Regions from separate parts of the Homo sapiens genome. Here all the other regions are linked to region 2. Evidence: fine-mapped expression QTL. A gene starts in region 2. Each other region holds a variant in brackets. All regions are shown on one strand. Distances are from middle to middle. Region 1 overlaps ZMIZ1 (zinc finger MIZ-type containing 1). Region 2 holds the start of ZMIZ1 (zinc finger MIZ-type containing 1). Region 3 overlaps ZMIZ1-AS1 (ZMIZ1 antisense RNA 1).

Evidence for each region. PIP is the estimated chance that this variant, and not a neighbour inherited with it, causes the effect.
Region 1: its variant is the best candidate, but not a certain one, in a credible set for the expression of ZMIZ1 in whole blood (TOPMed, PIP 0.67).
Region 3: its variant is the best candidate, but not a certain one, in a credible set for the expression of ZMIZ1 in cerebellar hemisphere (GTEx, PIP 0.69).

Annotation. Positions count from the first base shown.
Region 1 is chr10:79,161,420-79,165,650 of GRCh38, reverse strand. It overlaps ZMIZ1 (zinc finger MIZ-type containing 1), which reads right to left. Exons shown (of 25, transcript NM_020338.4): 4 at 3,518-3,598. Among named protein-coding and RNA genes, the nearest start is that of ZMIZ1, 95 kb to the right of the region's middle. RefSeq lists an enhancer at 2,680-3,351. The variant G/A (reference allele first, on the strand shown) is at 2,451.
Region 2 is chr10:79,067,289-79,071,519 of GRCh38, reverse strand. ZMIZ1 (zinc finger MIZ-type containing 1) reads right to left here and starts at 2,554. Exons shown (of 25, transcript NM_020338.4): 1 at 2,250-2,554. It overlaps ZMIZ1-AS1 (ZMIZ1 antisense RNA 1), which reads left to right and starts at 4,072. Exons shown (of 10, transcript NR_024431.2): 1 at 4,072-4,132. RefSeq lists enhancers at 1,544-1,593, 2,795-3,640, silencers at 1,794-2,773, 3,034-3,103, 3,904-4,113, 4,214-4,231 and a cis regulatory region at 2,236-2,921.
Region 3 is chr10:79,001,326-79,005,556 of GRCh38, reverse strand. All of the region lies in intron 5 of ZMIZ1-AS1 (ZMIZ1 antisense RNA 1), which reads left to right. Among named protein-coding and RNA genes, the nearest start is that of ZMIZ1-AS1, 64 kb to the left of the region's middle. The variant G/A (reference allele first, on the strand shown) is at 1,932.

The DNA of each region.
Region 1 (4,231 bases), 94 kb before region 2:
CTCCACTGTGGTCAGGGCCCCCCAGGCCAGTCTGAATGTGGAGCCAGTGTGCACCTGGAGGTCCTGACACACACGGGAGGGAGGGGTCTCCCCTTTCCTTGAATACTCATGAATATTCACACAGCCTCACGTCCTGCTGAACAATCACACCCATACACAGGCACACGCTACTACGCACACACTTACACACAAGCACACAGCCACACACCCTCCTCCCTCCCTCCCTCTGGAAGCTCTGAGTCTCCCAGAGCCACTACTCAGGCTAGGGTGCACTGTCATCCTGGGTCTCTGGGCAAGGAACCCTGGTCCCACATTAGGGCCAGAATGAGAGAAGCTGCTAAGAGGAAACCGGCTTTGTCAGGCCCAGCTCTGGCTCCCAAACTGAGCTCACCCAGGCAGGGGAGGAAGGCTTGGAGAACACACTCCCCATCTGCTGCCCTCTCCTGAAGGATCGTGGCCCAAATCCCAGAAAGGGAAAGGGAGCTGCTGAGGTTACACCAGACAGACCAGCATATCAGACCTAGGTCTGAGGCCCCCACCTCCCAGACAAGGGCTTTCTGTACCTCCCCACCCCCCTACCCAACCCACAACCTGTTAGACACCCTCTGATATAAGGAGTGTGGCTCTTTCCCTCAACCCTGCTCAGTGCCCCTATGTCCATGCAATGGGGCCAGTCAGCGGGGAGCAGGCACTGGTGCCTCAGCGCCTGTATCCTCGTCCAGTCCTCCCCTGGGACCTTTGGGAAGGGGCTCTGGAGGGAACAGGCTTCCTCCCGATCAGTGCAGCCTCCCCAGTAACCATCCTGGAGAGCCTCATGCTCTCTCCCAGACTCAGGGATGCTCCAAGCCCCAAAATCCACTGTCCAAGTGGCCCATACAGCCGCAACCCCAGCTTGCACACAGTTTAGTGATGAGGAACTCACCACCTCTGCAGGAGGCAGCTTTTTAACATAAAATCTCCAGATAGCTCAGACTCTTGGAAAGTTGAATTGGAAGATGCTGAAGAGATAGCATGGTTGCCACTAAGGGGCCTGAGGTCTCCTGGCCGGAGTTCACCAAGCAAGACTGTCCTTTCATCATTAGCTTGGAAAGTGACAGAACTGGCCCATCACCCTGACTGTCACTCCAAATTATAACAGAGCTACAGTCACAATATCCTATAGCCAGTACCACCTCCTTCACTCAAGACAGCTACCTAGAGACGCATGAGAATCACTCACTCACTCACTCACTCACTCACTCACTCAATTAACAGAATATCAATGGGGCCACTGCTCTGTGCCAGGGACTAAGACGTGGTAGTGAACAATGGTTCATTCAATGTTCTTTTCAGTTTAACAGCTGCCCTTCACCCATTTTACAGGTGGCAAAGCTGAGTCCAGGGAAAGGCAGCAACTTCTCAAAGCCATACAGGGAGCCAATGGTCAAGAGCGGAGCCCCACGCTGCCGCTGTTGGTGCTGACAGTGGGCCAGCCCTGGGAAGAAGGAGAGAAGGCCGCATGTTCACCGTCCCCACCCCCAGCCGTGTCTAGGACACCAAGGTATTGATTACCACCCTCGCCTTAGAGTGGTTTTCTTTTCTTTTTCCACCAAGGCTTTCTCTTCCTCATTTTTTTTTTCTTTTTCAAAGAATCAACTCGAAGCTGCTCCTATGATTAATTACCAGCTGCCTAATGCTCCGCCACTGGCAATTTATGGAAAAGGAATGAATTACCTTGAAAAACATCCGAAAAGAGAACCCACCGTGAAGGAGAATTTCAAAGGTTACCAGACAATTAGCAGGGGGTTCCCCTAGCCTTATCGAGTTGCAGGCAGGCCCCATCGGGAGAGGCAGGCCACCAGCCTGAGGGCCACCCTCTGGCTCCAGAGAGCAGCGGACTTGGCGGGCTGGGCAAAGGCTGCAGGGCAGAAATGGAGTGGCTTTCCCCAAGCAGCTCCCATGCTTGTCCTGGGGCCCCGCCCCTGGCCTCTAAGGCCTTATGCACTGGTTAATCCTGATGGACCTCGGTTCAAATCCCCATTCCAGCACTGATGGCTCTGTGGGTTTCCTAACCACGCCGAGCCTCTGGAGAATGAATTAGACAAACCTCCCCGTGGGATTCTTGTGGGGGTAAAAAGGTATTAAAGGAGCATAGTGCCTGACACACACACAGCAGATGCTCACGAGACTGTGACATTTAAAAATATTCATGGCTTCTAAGCATCCTCACAGCAGCTCTGTCAGCAATGTCAGTATAATCAGCCTCATTTTCAGATGAGAAAGCTGGCTCTCACACAAGGGAAGGGACTGGCCCAAGGTCATGCAGCCAATCAGCAGACAGCTGGGATTTCCTGCAGCAGGAACGGAGATGGAGCCTGGCTCTCCAATGTCGGAGCTTGACTGAGGCTCGCCTGGCCCTGCCCCTAGGCCCCTGGAAGCGCTAAGCTCCAGGAGGGACGCTGAGGGCAGCA[G/A]GGGATGTTAGGAGACAGCTCCACACCAGGGCGAAGACTCCCCCCTCCCGGGCTGCCCCAGCACCACGACGCCTTGGGACAAAGGGCTCTGGGCCAAGTAAGGATTTTTGTGAAGTCTCTCATCTCTAGGTTGAGAGTTGCCAAGTAAACAGGGATTACACAGGTCACCCTCGGGCACAGGGCCAAGTGAGATCAACCCTGAAATGCCACCCCATGATGAGAAATGCTGGGGCACGGGACAGAGCTGGGCTTGACCTCAGGACCTGCTGGCCCCGACCTTAGGACCTGCTGGCCCCAGCTGCTCTCAGTTGCTCCTCAAGGTGCCCTGCCCCCCTTATCAGGCGGGGGGTCCAGTTCGTGTCCATCCTGGCACTGGTGGGTCCTCAGGGGGAGCAGGGTGGTGGAAACTGAGGTGTGTGGGGAGAAAGGTGGGTCCTAGCACCCTTGAGGAAAAGGACTGACATGTCCCTAGTCCTTGCTGTGTGCCAGGTGTGTAGTCTCCTCACTGCGAGAGTGGAGCAGGCACCGCCATCTCATTCCCATTTGATAGATGGGTAAACAGAGGCACAGAGTAACCATGCATGCCAGTCAGGATTTGAATCCAGGTGGTCTGACCCCAGAGCCCAGTGTATCCATCTCGGCATGTTTGTGAGAGTGGGCAGAAGGGGTGGGTAGCCCTGCACCCATTTCAGCCGACATGCTCCTGCTCACCCAGGCCTCCTTTGGTGGGGCTGCCCATACTCCACAGGGTTTAGAGTGGTGCAGACAGGGCTGCTGTGCCAAGACCAGGTGGCCAGACCTGCCCCTCTCCCCGGGCAGACCTGCAGCCCCCACCCCTAGCAGCTGCTCTAGAGAAAGGCCAGGCCAAGAGGTCCCTGGGTGCCAGGTAGAGGGACAGCCCATTGGGGGCATGATGAGGTCCCAGCAAAGGTGGCTTGTGCCCGCTCCTGCCCCTCAGGGCTGAGGCCCGAGTCAAAGGTCCAGCGTGCTAGGGCTAGCACCTGCCCTCATGAGGACTCACCTGCGTCCGACCCAGCCACCTCCCGCCAGCCCCGTGGCACACCTACCTCAGTGATCTGCAAACCACCAGTGTTCCACACGCCGGTCAGCAGCTTGCGGCCCCTCCACCTCACTCCAGCTCCATCCTGCTGCAATGAAAGTGGGAGGTCAGCGGGTCTACCCACAGTAGAGGCCCGGCACTGACCATGAGGCCACTGCCCACTGCCACCATATCATCCCCATCTGACAGAGGGGGACTCTGAAGGGACATGATGGGGTGCCCTGGCATAAACAGGCCCCTGACTCCCCACACCTGCCAGTTACTGGTTATGTGATTACAGATATGCTCTCAGACTCTCTGGGGTTCAATTTCCTCACGTGTCAAAGTGGGGTCAAAGTATGTCTCAAGGTCACCGGGAGAATCCAGGGAGATGCAATGACAAAGGCACTTCGCATTCACTCATTCATTCAACAAACATTCAGCAAGCATGCTGATGTGATAGTGATCCCTACCCTTGCGGAGACTCAGACGAGAGCAAAGAATCAAATGATACAAAAGTAAAAGCAGTGCTTGCCAGAAACAAACAATGAGTCCAGGAGCCACACAGCAGAGACTCAAGGTCCCAGGTGGCCTCTCTGGAGAAGTGAAGTTGAGCAACAAGCCAGGGAGAGGCAGACCAAGATGCAGCAAACAGCATTCCAGGCAGAGGGAACAGCATATGTGAAGACTCCAAGATAGAGAAAAGTGCCTGGCCCAGTGGAGGACTTGGGGTCTGTGGTGT
Region 2 (4,231 bases):
TCAACAGCAGCTTCACACTCCCGGGACCGTACAAGCGCCAGCGAACGCAGGCTGGAATTCACCAGCGCCAAGCTGCCCGGCTCTCCAGCCCCGGCGCCTGCCTCTTTATCTGTACCTTCAAAAACAGTAATAAGCAAACCCAGGCACCTCTGGGAACAGCCTCTGGCCTCCTGCCCTGCCCTGTGTAACCAGCCTGTCCTCACACCCACCAGGGAGGAGGAGTCGGCACTGGTTAACCCTCTGGTCTACCAGGCCCGGTTCCCAGGTTGCAGCAGGGAGACAAACTGTTGCTCAAGAAAATCCTTCAGAAAACCCTTGGCACCAGGAGGCAGCTCGGAGCGGCTCTGCACCCGGCGCGGAGCCAGGGGCTTCCACAGGCGGCCGCCCACTGCCCTTTTAAATCTTTGGGGCTGGGCCCTACTCTCCCATGCCCTGGGCTGTCCACCCAGAGGGCTCCAAATGTCCGTGGCAGAGCAGAGAGGAGGGAAAGGCTGGCCGAGCCGTGCCCTCACCCCGCCAGCCCAGCCGCCAGCTTCTTGGAGGACCTCTGAGAGAACATTTGTTTGGGCTGCCAAGTTAAATCTTCCTCCCTCATGTCAGGGCATTGGAAAAGCAGTCAGGGGAGAGGAGAAGGGGGAGAGCGCGCGGGGGAAGGAGCAGCGGGAGGGAGGGAGGGAGGGAGGCAGGCGGGCAGGCTCAAAGCCCCAGTTACTCGGGCACTGCCTACCCAGGAAGCTGACGGCTCCCGGGCAGGCGCAGCCGGGGCTCCGGGCACCGAAGCAGGGACCCGGCCGTCAGGCCTCCCCGGTCAGGCAAGGGTACCAAGCACCCTTGGCCCACCTGGGAGCGGCCCTCGCTCTGTGACCTGCTGGAGGGACGAGGTGGGAAGGGAAGGCAGAGAAGGAAAAAGTTTGCTGCAGGTAGAGGGGTAGGGCTGGGCGGCAGTGCCGACCGGCTGTCCCCGGGGAGGGGTGGGGGGCCCGGACCGGCTGCCCTGGCGCGCTCCCGTCCGCCCGCCCTCCCGCCCGGGTTGTTTACATTCCTGGAGTGTCTTTTAAACCCGGGGCTGAGGCCGGCTCCCGGCCTTCTCCGGCGGCTCCGGGGCAGTCTCCCGTGAAAATCTGCTGGCGCACAATGGCCGGGAAGGCGGCCGCCCCTCGCCCGCGCCCCCACCGCTCCAGGGCGGGGAGCCTGCCCTCCGCACCGCGCCCTATCCCCGCCCGGCCGGCTTCCTGGACAGATGTCCCCAGCGAGGGGGCGACGCGCGCCCGCTGCCCGCGCCCTAGACGCCGAGGCCGCGCTCCCCACTGTTTTTTCCCCAGCCCAGACGCCAGGAATGTGAAGCAAGCTTCCAGAACCCGCCTCCCCCCCCCGACCCCGGCTCCAGCCCCGGCCCCCCAACCTCCGCCCCGGCTGGCCTCCCACTCCCCCGGGGCCACCGCCGCCGGAGACGGAGAGGAAGAAAGAACACGGGGAAATTACTTTCGTATTTGCAACGCGCGCGCGCACACACACGCACATCTTCCCCCTGGGCTCCCCTCCTGGCCGGGGCAGCCCCGTCCAGGCACTGGCCTGAGCGCCCCTCTGGCTTGCGAAGCCCTGGGAGAAAACCCTGCACACACACCTCCGCGTTTCTCGTTTGTACCGCGCGCCAGCTTTCCCCGGGCAATTCCCACACAAACAACTTAACCGCGCCCCCACCTCCCATTTACAAAAGTGTATGTTTTCCCTGGAAATTCAGACGCACAAGTTAACACCACCACCCCTTGCCATCCTGAAATCCAGCGCTTTCCCCAGCGGTTCCTGTACACACACAGGCGCACAACTTCGCATCTCCCCAGAGGAGGCGAAGGAGACCGAGGCGGTCCTTCCCTCCCTCCTCCGATTCCCGGTCCTGCCCGGCCCCCGGGTGTAGGGAGCGAGGGCTGGAGGCGCGCCGGCAGGAGGCGGGCACCGGGTCCGCGCGCGCACGACCACACTTACGCCCCGCACACCCTGACAAACCCGGCCCCCACGCGCAGCCCAAGCCGGCTCCGCGCAGCCGGGAGCTCGCCGGCCGCCGGGCCTCGGCCCCCGGCCGCCAAGGAGAGCGGAGCGGAGCCCGCGCCGCCGGCCGGTCGCCCCGCTCCGGGGGACACTTTAAGGGAAAAACCCCAGCACCCAATCCCCACGCTTGCACCCCGAGAGTCCCCGGGGAGCGGGAGGTAGCCCCGGAGCCAGCGGGCGCCTGGCTCTGGCCCCAAACTTACCGGGCGCTGCGAGCGCCGCTGCCGCCGCTGGAGGACGCGCCGCCGCCACCGCCGGGTAGGGCAGGCTCGGGCCGGGAGGAGCGCAGCGAGGGCGCCGAGATCCGCTCGGCTCCGGCTCCTGCTCCGCGCCGGCTGGGGCTGGGGTCACCGCGCTGCGCCGGCGTTGCTCGCTCGCTCGGCCGCCCGATCGCTGCTCGCCCGCCTGCCGCCCGGCCGCCCGCTCTCCCCGGCGCCCGCCGCCGCCGCTCGCTTTTTTAATGTCCACAGACAGTGAAAAGGAACTCGGCGTTAGGGGGTGAGTAAGTGAATCAACTCGCCCGGAGCCGAGCAAGTTGAAGTGTCAGATTACATTGGCTATTCTATTTCCAAAGGGCCCCGCGCCGCCGGCCGCCCGCAAAAGCCGGTGCGGAGTCAGGCCGGAGTGGAGCGCCGCGCCGCGCCGCCGCCGCTGCCGGCGCTCGGCTTGGCTCGCGCTCTGCGCTCTCTTTCCCCTTTCCTTTTCGCCTCTCCTCGTTCTCTCCCTCGCCTTTCCTTTCCTTTCTCTTCCTCTCTTCCTCGCTCCTCGGTCTCGGCGCTCTCCCAGCTTTTCTTCTCCTGGCTCCTGGTTCCCCGCTACGCCACCAGTCCACTCACCTCTCTCCTTGCCCTACTCCCTCCGCTACTCCCTGACGCCCCCTGCAGCCCCCAGCCCCCCTGCAGGCCCCAGCCCCAGTAAGTTTGGAGAGGGGAACAAATGCTGAGCCTAGGTAGGGACCACCTTGGGGAGGAAGCCAAAATCACACTGCTCACCCGAGAGCCCCTGCCCCGCGCTGGCACGCCCCCGCCTGGAGTGCACTCGTGGCCCCGGGCGCTGTCAGGTACCCGAATTGGGGTAAGCGAGTTGGTAACTGGACCTCCAAAGCCTTCCCCTGGGGTTGACTTTGGAATTGTTCCTACAGCCCGGGGACTGGTGGTTGGGGTGGGAAGAGGACCACCACCACCAAGGGTGACTTTGAGGGAGACTAGAGCGCGGCCCCCCGACAGCTGTGGGGGAGCGGGGGTGTGGTGGCCACAGTTGATCCGCGGCACCTAGCACAGTCCAGAGACGCGTGGATTCCCCTAGGCCCGGCGCGGAGCGCCCGGGGCGCTGTGCGCGCGGGCTGCGTGGGAGCTGCTAGGCTGGGGCCTGGCCCTCTGCCCCGGACTGGGCACTGCCAGAGATAGCGGAGAGCTAAGGTACTCACGAGGCGCAGTTGGGTGCACCCACTCGCGGGAGTTCCCCTAGCCGACCCACCCCCCCCCCCCGAGAGCATCCAACTACGCGCCCACTTTGGCTCACGTCCACTGCCACTCTCACGGAAACTCCTACAAGAACGGCACACACGTTCGCTCCCTCAGCATTGCAAACACGCTCCCCCCCAAACCACAAACGCGCCCCCACACACTCGCTTACTTTCCCTCACAAAGATGCCCGCTTACACGGCCACAGCAGGCACGCTCAGAGACACGCAGTTACACACACACATCGCTGTACACAACCCCACATACAATCAAAAAACAAAACACGAAACGTTCCCCTGGGCACTAAATCCTCACGTTAACGTACACACACAAACACACGCCCTCCTCTCCCACTTCCTCTTCCATACCCCTTCCTCGAGGCCCCCCACCCCTGATTTTCGGCACCCCCAGTCCCAATCATAATTGGCGCCCGCGCAGCCCTCTTTGGACACACACGCGCCGCCCACGCACGCGCTCCCCTCCCCGGCAGGCGGGGGCGGCTTCGGCCGGGAGCCGGCGGAGCCCGCTTCGGATTCCAGGTGTGGCAGTGACTCCGCGCTCCACGTTTTGCAGGCTGCCACCGTGTCGGAGGCGAGGCGAGGAAGGGAGCTGGAATAACAAAGGCAAGTTGGGGAGAGCGCAAGGGGGCGCAGCCCCGGCCGGGCTGCGGGGGGAGCCTTGCACGGCCGGGGCTTCGGAGGCTGCAGGGTCGGGGGCGCGGG
Region 3 (4,231 bases), 66 kb after region 2:
TCTGAGGGAGTGTCAGCATTACGGACTCCTAGTTTAATGATCTGGGGTAGTGATTTAAGGGGTGGGGTCCCAGGTGGCTGGAGGATGGGAGCAAAAGCTGGTGGAGCCCCTCAGAATCGAGGCCAGGGCTCCTGTCTGGCCGGGGGCAGGGATGGCCTGAGCCGAGCATTGGCTGGAGTGCAGCTGGCTGCTCCTTCCTGCCGCTCTCCTGAGCTTATGCATCTAGAGAGCACACTCCCTGCCTGCTGGCTGCACCCTGTGACCCCCGGGCTCCAGCCAGGCATCATGAGACTTTTGGGAGTGGGAGGTCTGAGAGTCGTTCCATCTGCCAGCTGTGGGCTGCTACAGCTCACCTGTCTGGCAGCCTCACACCTGTTAGCTCTTCAAGGCAGGGTGCTCGTCAGGACTGCCCTCTCCCTTTCTCAGGACACATCTCCACCTCCCACATCCTACCTGCCCTTTTGCTGTTCTTTTCCCAGAAGCCCCTGCACATTGGGCAACCCCACTCCCAGCTCTATGTTGGTCTTCCCTGAACTAGGGACATTCCCAAGTCAGCCTGATTCCCTGCCCAGGCTGGAAGCCCAGGCTGGGGCGGTGGGGGACATCCCTAAATCTCCCAGAGCCAGACTTGTAGTGGGCACGTGGGCTTCCTCCATGTTCACTGCATTTAGGTTTCTTTTAGGGAGAAGGGCTGCCCCAGGTGGAAAAGAGCTGAGGTTGCCCCTCCCCGAGCCCTACTATGTGCTGTGTGCTGGACCCCAGGCCAGGCTCTTGCTATGCCTTTGCATAAGGTTAAGTGAAGGACTCTGGAGCCAGCCTCCTGGGCTCAATTCCCATCTCTGCCATATATAAATTTGGTGACTTAGACAAGAGACTTGACCTTTTTGTGCCTGAATTTCCTCACCTGTAAGTGCAGGTTACAGTCGTACCTACTGCATAGGTTTATTGTGAGGAACAAATGAGTCAACGCATGGAAAGTTCTTATTCTGGTTTCAGCACGTAGACTGGGCTCCTAGTTTGCTGTCATTAGCACATCTCCATGAATCCTTACAAACCCTAAGTGGATGCGCCTGGCTTGATGACAGACAGCACAGTGGCCAAAGGTTTGCATACCAGCCAGTCACCCATGCATAGATCTGGTGCTCAACCTATAGCAGGACCCGGGAACATTAAATTTCCTGAGCCTGAATTTCCTCCTCTGTAAAATGCCAATCATAATAATAATAGCAGCTGCTTCTTAGGATTACTGTTCTGATGACATAAGTTCATACCCATAAAGTAGGTCACAAAGTGCCCGGCACAAAGCAAGCTCTTAATAAAGCAAAGTATCGACACTCCCATTTGACAGATGGGAAACAAAGTCTCAGCGAGGGGAAGGGACTTACCCACCAGAGGTAGTCATTAAACTCAGTTTCATCTGAGTGCAAAGCCAAGGCATGCTCCTCTCTAGCCCCGCTCCACCGCCCATGGACAGGGGTCATGTTCAGACCTTCTCAGGCCCTGAAGCCCTCTCTTCAAGGGCTCATAATTGGAAAACCTTGACCACCCTCCTCCTGACCCAGCACACTTATTAGCTAGTTGAACCCGGGTGAATTGAAGTTGCCAAAGGCACCCTGTCTTCCAGGAAACAGGGCCAGCCAAGGCCACTCTGCTGACCTTGGTGGGTGTGACAGGTCCCTGGGTAATCAATCCCCTTTATGACCAAGGCCACCAATTTTCTCCCTCTTTGATTCCCTCTCCTGAAGCCTGGTGCATCCACTCAGCACCTGGTTAGGAAGCTAGGCCAATTTTCCTCCCTTTTGATTTCATTCTGCTCCTGTCTGGCTGCCCAGCCACATGGAGAGTTTGTCAAATGGAATTTCTGTCTCTTGCGGCCGCCCTGCCCTCTGCAGAGTGCTGAACGGGCAGGCAGGATCACCCGGCTCAGTGCC[G/A]CAGACATCACTCTCTTGTGATAAGGGCCAGTGCGCACCCTTGAAGGAGGAGCCTGTCATTCTTCACAGTCACCAGGCAGCTGGCGGGTAAGGCCACCTCGCAGACTCAGAGTGGGGGCACAGGATGGCAGCAGACAGCGGGGGCGGCTGGCAGCAGTCCCTTGAGCCCACAGGCTTGGGAGGAGGCAGCTTTGGGTCCCACAAAGGGCAGGGCATAGGGTTGCTGGAATAACAGAGGTCCCTGCCGCTGCTCATCCACATGGCCCAGCATCAGCACGAGATACTACTGGAATGAGGCAGCTCAAACTCAACTCTCGGCTGCCACCAATGCTTTTTTTTTTTTTTTTTTTTTTTTTTTTGAGAAGGAGTCTCGCTCTGTTGCCCAGGCTGGAGTGAAATGGCACGATCTCGGCTCACTGCAGCCTCCGCCTCCTGGGTTCAAGCAATTCTCCTGCCTCAGCCTCCTGAGTAGCTGGGATTACAGGCCCCTGCCACAATGCCTGGCTGATTTTTGTACTTTTAGTAGAGACGGGGTTTCACTATGTTGGCCACGCTGATCTCAAACTCCTGACCTCAGGTGATCTACCCGCCTCGGCCTCCCAAAGTGCTGGGATTACAGGCGTGAGCTGCTGTACCCGGCCAGCTGCACCATTGCTAATAACCATTAAGTCACATTTCATCACACGTAGGTGCCAAACTTGAGGCTTTTGAAATATGCCTGTGTATTCTTTGACATGCCTCCCCTTGAATGTGGGCTGGACTTAGTGACTTGACTTGCTGTCTCCCCTTCTCCAGGCAAGGGGGGAACCCCAGGCATCATAGAAATAACAGCAATCCTTGCTGCTATTCCCCAAACCCCTACTGTAGGCCAGGGACTGGGCTAGGTGGCTACCTGTGGCCTGTTAGTGACTCATTTGATCCTCAACCCCACCAGTGGGGTAGCTGATATTATTAACATCCCCATCTCAAAGATGAGGAAACTGAGGCGCAGAAAGGTTAGCAAATCACTCATGGCATCAGCTTGTAAGTCACAAAGCCAGGGTTGAGCCTCCGTGGCTTGGCCCCAGGGCTTTTCTTAGCCACTGTAATACCCAGTCACAAGGACACTCCCTGCGGGGCAACTGATTGTGCAGCTGAGAGGAGCCAGTGGAGGAGAAAAAGCTAAGAGGTTCCTGAAGGGTGGAGGGTCAACCTCTTTTCTGGAGGAGGATGAGGAAAGCCTTGACTGAGAGATAGGGAGGACTGGGGAGGTCACAGAGGGACCTGTGGGCACAGGGTCTCTGGAAGCTGCCCTGGGAATTCTTGGCTGAACTGTGTGCAATAGAAATCTTTTTTCTTTCTTTCTTTCTTTCTTTCTTTCCTTTTTTTTTTTCCTTTTTCTTGAGACAGGGTCTCTGTCACCCAGGCTGAGTGCAGTGGTGTTATCAAACTCACTGCAGCCTCAATCTCCCAGGCTCAAGCAATCCTCCCACCTCAGCCTCCCAAGGAGCTGGGACTACAGGCATGCATCACCATGCCCAGCTAATTTTTTTGACTTTTTGTAGAGATTAGGTCTTGCTATGTTGCTCAGGCTGGTCTTGAACTCCTGGACTCAACTGATCCTCCCGCCTCAGCCACCCAAAGTGCTGAATTACAGGTGCAAAGGAAATCTTTAAAGCAAAATGCCAAGGAAATACTGTTTGAGTAGGACTGTACCATTTATAATCAGTTTCCACAGCCATCTTAGGGAACTCTCACCTCTCCCTGGGTATGCCACCCACCCAGTCCCCCAGACAAGATTCTGGGGATCTGCTGGACACTTCTTGTCTTTCAGGTGCTCTAATTTTACCAGCCACCATGCAGTCCTGCCTCTTGGGTGCCCTAATTCTTCTGGGCAGTCCTGCCTCCTACCCACCCCTTGGTTCTGGTTCTGCCCACTTCCTTCCCACTCCACTGCTCCCACCCCACCGCCAGCCACTGCCACCTCCTGCCTGCTGGGGACACTGACATCACCTCTTGGCTGCTTTTCTCTACCCAGTTGCTCTTCCCTCTGACCACTTCTTCCCTGAAGGGACCTTCCTACATCACAATTGAAACAATTCTCCTTCCTTGCTTACAATTGCTCACTGACTCATGTGGTATTCAAGTCCAAATCCCTGAGCATGTTTTTGAACTGGAAAAATGACAGGGGGCAGTGGTGGTAATCAGAGCAGGCTTCCTGGAGGAAGTGACAACTAGGCTGAAGGATGAGTGAGTGTTCATGCCACATGATGTGCAGGAAAGGCACTCTGGGACAGCAGCAGCAGAGGACCTTCCTGGAG